2 separate regions of the Homo sapiens genome follow, and region 2 is linked to region 1. Evidence: fine-mapped expression QTL. Tissue or cell type: whole blood. Region 1 holds a variant in brackets; the other region holds the start of a gene. All regions are shown on one strand. Distances are from middle to middle.

Region 1 (2,764 bases):
GACAGGAAATAGGGAAAAATCCTGGGTGACTCATGAGGCAAATGAGAATCAATAGTGCAGTTTCCACCCATGTAACATTGGCAGAACTGTCTTTTTTAAGCTTTAATTTTCCTTGTACAATGGTCCTCCATAAACAGCAATGAAAAAAAAAAAAAACAGAACAAACACCATTGAGTCACCAGCTCCCAAGGTCCTGTGTGGTGCTTTATTGATGGTAGGTGTATGGAGCTTCCTGGAACATGTTGTTCACAAATAAAGATGTCTTTCTGGCCTTAAGAGAGTGTGTGAATCCCACTGGTCTGGGAGCATGACATATTGAGCCAGAGTGTTTTACTAAAGCTGCTCTCTGAAGTTGGAGATGGCAATTGGGTTAGGAGATAGGCGCTGGGCTGGGGAGAGACTCAAGCAACAGAGAACAACATTTCTCCCTCCTGAATGGGAGCAAGCATCTTCCTTTAGATTAAGTGCTCTCTATTTCCTGAGTGAATAGGGACAAGTTTCCTAAGCTAGAACCTTTCTCAATTCTGATAAGTTTGAGTTATTGACTTTCCATTCTGATTACTATTAAAATTTCTTTTAAAATAAATCAGAGGTAGAGTCCAGTAGTCCAGTAGAATATAGAATCTCAGATATAAAAGGAAATAAACTGTCTTCAGGAAGATTAGAGTGCAAAGTGAGTATTTAAATATTTTATTTGATAATATGGGTTACTGATGTATCTTCCTCATCCCCAATTTTTAAACCCTATTATGTTTATAAGTTTTGGAAGTTTCTGTGGAAATATTTACTTCACAGTTTTAATAAGTATCACAATTAATTAATTGAACTCCTGCTATGTAGAAGGAAAATAATATTAAATAAAGTCACATTGTCATGAAATATTTTCAAACTAGTTAGTAATTATATAAAATTCAAACCTGTTTCCTCCTACTGCACACTCCATACTCCCACATAAAAACTACCAACAATGACAATATTCATTGCAAGAAGCACATTTGAGAGACCATATGAAATTGTCCTTCTTATTGGTCTAAAAATGTTCTAACAGCATAGAAATTTAAAAATGCTCAACCGAAATAGTACAAATAATATGGGCTAGGTATTAGGAAACCTGGATCTTCCCCTAATTAGTTGTTTGCCCTTTTGTGAGTCATTTAGACCTTCTGACTGACCTCCACTCCTCTCTGCTCTAAACTGGGATTAACAGTTTATGCTCTCTGCAAACCTCTTAAGGTTGCTGCCAGTTTCAAAGCAATATTTGTAAACCAAAATATACTCTACGAATTCAGGGTATTATGAACCTTAAATAGCTAAGCTCTGTGTCAAAGTTTTGTTCTTA[A/G]GGCATCATATTTCTCTGAGTAGAAGTGTGTGAGCTATAATACTATGCTGCTACTATCAAACAGCCAATTTTGTCTTTCAATGGTTTTAAATATCAGCCTGAGATTGAAGAAAATAAAAATGGACAGACCTGTTGGGTTTTTATTTTCAGATTCAGCCTGAGAATCACAGTTTCTGGGACTGAGTAAATACTACTTATGCTTGTCTAGGAGTAGAGTCAATTCAAATGGCACTATGTCAACTTTGTTAACGTCATCAGCCACAGACTTTTTCTTATGCTGCCAATAATACAATTTATTGCTGTTTTTAAAAAAGTTATAGGACTACCATTTTCTTTTCCTGCTAAAGTTTTCCTTGTCATTCTGATTCTTTGAGGTAAAATGAAGAACTGGGGAGGACCTGTTTTGGGGAGACATTTAAAGGAGCAATGTTGGTCATTGTTAGATAAATGACAGGACTTGCCTCATACAGTAAAATGTAAACAAATATTTGAAGTTCTTTTGAAACCGACATGAATGAATTTTGAACAAGGCAAAATAGTAATAGCCACTGGGCAAGAAAAAAATATTAGAAAGCGCACACACAAAAAATCACACAAGGATGTGTGTCTGAGTAAAGAAAGCAAAAAGCATCTTGAATAAAGTAAATACAGTAAAAACAAAAAGGAAATTGCATTGACACAATCACTCTGGTATATAATTTGAAAATATTATCAATTTCCTAAAAATGAAACTGAAACTAAAGCACTGAAATATCAAGTAGCAGTGAATATTTTAATAATATCTGCCTCAGAAAATGTAAAAACATAAAATTTTAGGCATCGGAGCAACAGCTGAAGACTAAATGCAAAATGAGACGAATTATTTTAGAAAAGCCAATTAAAAAGTAAATCCATTTTGCTGTCTACATAACTCATCTTCCCCAGAAAGCATAAATGTCAAAATTTTAATAAATCCTATTAAAACAATTCTTCAAGTTGCCATTTTGCTACACAGAGGGTCATAGACATTCCAAGCTTCTATATACATAAACTCTATCGTAGTACCCATTGTCCTGTTGTGTATTGCAGACTTGCCCATGTGAGCCATCAGACAGACAGATTATAAAATGTCCCGCAGAGAAGGCAGCTCTGGTCTAACATTCAACTCTTTATGGTAGCTAGGAACACCTTAACAGAAGTCCCTTCTGTCAGAAGGCTACTCAAGGTGGTGGGCCCAAGGAGATGTCCTTATTATTCCCTGAAATGGTTCAGTGGAAAGATAACTTGATTCAGATTCAGAACCTGGGTCTGAGCTCCAACACTGACACCACAAGTGGAATGACCTCAGGCAACTCACCAAATTTCTCAAGGCTGGGCTTTGTTCATCTGTGAGTTGTGAATAATAATAGCCTAACTCATAGGATTGATGTGAAAGTCAGACGAAAC
Region 2 (2,764 bases), 35 kb after region 1:
CTGGTCAGAGGAACACATGGGTGTGCTCTGAAGGAAGCGATGGCCCTATGCGGACAGGGTAGTTGTCCTAGAGTCCCCAGGCGCACCTCAGTGCTTAGGCGCAGCGCTGAGGGGATGGCCTCTGCCACAGAGACAGTCGGATTTCTCCATTTTGGGACGCAGCTCGGCAGGGCACCGGGAGGGGGCGGCGTTGTCACGCAGCTGGATGCTCCACGGGTGACACCCCCGCACCCTACCCCTCACCCCCGAGCCGCGCAGCTTGAGTGACTAGGCCGGGGCTCCCCCAGTTAGGAGGTGCGGGCTGTTTTTCCTCCCAGTCTGGGCGGGCAGGGCTGAGCAGGGTTTGGGGAGTATTCTGTGACCCTGGCATTCTCCCCTCTGCCCCACCTCAGCCCCCGGCAGCGTCTAGGCGCTGGGAAAGCTGCTCCGGGTTAGTTGATGGAGGCAGCGAGCTGCCGAAGAGACGGCCACAGCTTTCTAGCAAAGAGTGGTGGTGGCGCGAGTGAGCGTGCGTAGAATTAGCTCTGCCGAAGTCACCGAAGCTGGAGGAGAGAATTCATTTTATTCTTGAAACTCCTACTTTTACGTCTCGTGGAAAACCAAATCGTATTCCACTGACACTATGATGCACTTAAAATGGCCAAACTTTAGGGGGCCGCGAGGAACGCGCTTCGCCGCCTCCAATTTTGTCAGAGAACTCGCAGCAAAGGCACCGGACACCTAGCGGCCCTTTCCCTGGACTCCGGGGCAGCACGCACTCCCCGGGCGCGCTCTCTGCGCCCACTCGGCCCGCCCAGTCCTCGGCCATTGGCTGCTCGCCCGCGTCTGCTCCGTGACGCGCCCTGACCCCCGCGAAGTACTGGCCCCTTGGAGCCACTCGTGCGCAGGAGCCGCGCACGCCCGAGGCCCGTGGTGCCGCCCCCGCGCCTTCTCGGGCTCGCCCAGAGCTCCCCGGCGCGCTTCCCGAGGTTTCGAGAATCGAAACCCAGTTATCAACAAGCCCTTCCCACTCACGCGCCGTGACTGATTTGCGTGCAAGAGTGGACTCATGAGTCCACACTTGGATCGGGTTTATCAATGGAGTAAATGGTCTACCTAAAAACCGAGGTTTAAAAGAGCGGTCGTGAGGAACCTCCGGAGCCCAACCGTGATGATCTAAAGACGGGCTGAGTCCGCGAGAATTTTGGGAAGTTTCTGCAGTTGCAGGATTTTAGTCGTGATCTGGTTTTGATGACCACTTATGATTCCTGGGGCATTTAAAGTGTCTCCTCCTGGGGAAAATGAAAAGAGATTTGTGGGAGGGGGCGTACATAAATTAAATGTATGTATAAATACACGCATCTACGGGCGCACACAGTATCCGCACATACAGCCCAGGACCTCACGCTCACCGGCAGTCGTCCCGCACTAACTGCTGGGCTAGTCAGCTGCGTGCCCTGCGGGCGGGGGAGGGCAGAGGGGGCGGCGCCCTATGCAGATGAGGAGGGTGTGGCGAACGTGCCGCTCTGGGCCCCGGAAGCGCAGAGAAGCCCGGTATAAAAAAAGTACTGAAGACATTTTCCCCGCACAACTGCTAAAGCTCCAGAGACACGAGCGTGTGTGGCAGCAAGAGCCGCCAGTTCGGGACCACCGCAGCTGGGGTGGCAGCGGCGCAGGAGGGGTCGCGGGGAGGGAGTGGTGAGCGCAGGCGGCAGGGGTCTGGGAAAGACGAAGTCGCTATTTGCTGTCTGAGCGCGCTCGCAGCTCCTGGAAGTGTTGCCGCCTCTCGGTTTCGCTCTCGCTCGCTGCGCTCCTAGAAGGGGCGGCCGCCTCCAGGTGACACAGACGGGACTCTCGCTTGCGCTTTCCAGATGCATCAGAGATACTTTTGGTGCGGGGCTGCTCTGCGGGGCGCGGTGCGCGGCTGGGGACTGTAAGGGCCGGGGGAGGGAGTCTCCGAGGAGGCCCGGGGTCAGGGAACTATCGGGGGAGGGGGCGCTCTTTTCCTGGCGGGCCTCTGCTCTCCGCCGCCGCGCGTGCTCTCCGCCGCCGCGCGTCCTCACCGCGCTCCTTTCCCTTTCTTTTTAGGACTGACCAGGGCCAAGTGGCGCTCGGCGGGCACTACATGGCGGAGGGTGAAGGGTACTTCGCCATGTCTGAGGACGAGCTGGCCTGCAGCCCCTACATCCCCCTAGGCGGCGACTTCGGCGGCGGCGACTTCGGCGGCGGCGACTTCGGCGGCGGCGACTTCGGCGGTGGCGGCAGCTTCGGTGGGCATTGCTTGGACTATTGCGAAAGCCCTACGGCGCACTGCAATGTGCTGAACTGGGAGCAAGTGCAGCGGCTGGACGGCATCCTGAGCGAGACCATTCCGATTCACGGGCGCGGCAACTTCCCCACGCTCGAGCTGCAGCCGAGCCTGATCGTGAAGGTGGTGCGGCGGCGCCTGGCCGAGAAGCGCATTGGCGTCCGCGACGTGCGCCTCAACGGCTCGGCAGCCAGCCATGTCCTGCACCAGGACAGCGGCCTGGGCTACAAGGACCTGGACCTCATCTTCTGCGCCGACCTGCGCGGGGAAGGGGAGTTTCAGACTGTGAAGGACGTCGTGCTGGACTGCCTGTTGGACTTCTTACCCGAGGGGGTGAACAAAGAGAAGATCACACCACTCACGCTCAAGGTAACACCACCCGAGATGCACTTGGGTCCTGACCCAGTCTGGGCCGGGTGTGACGGGGAGCGGGCAGAGGGGCATCGGTTAAATGCCATGAATCTGTGGCCATCACGA

What was found. PIP is the estimated chance that this variant, and not a neighbour inherited with it, causes the effect.
Region 2: it holds the start of TENT5A, and the variant in region 1 is fine-mapped to the expression of TENT5A in whole blood (INTERVAL, PIP above 0.99).

The regions. Positions count from the first base shown.
Region 1 is chr6:81,786,339-81,789,102 of GRCh38, reverse strand. No RefSeq gene overlaps it. Among named protein-coding and RNA genes, the nearest start is that of LINC01526, 26 kb to the left of the region's middle. The variant A/G (reference allele first, on the strand shown) is at 1,340.
Region 2 is chr6:81,751,482-81,754,245 of GRCh38, reverse strand. TENT5A (terminal nucleotidyltransferase 5A) reads left to right here and starts at 1,565. Exons shown (of 3, transcript NM_017633.3): 1 at 1,565-1,815; 2 at 2,068-2,656. The coding sequence starts at 2,105. RefSeq lists enhancers at 494-543, 1,404-1,904 and a silencer at 1,364-1,493.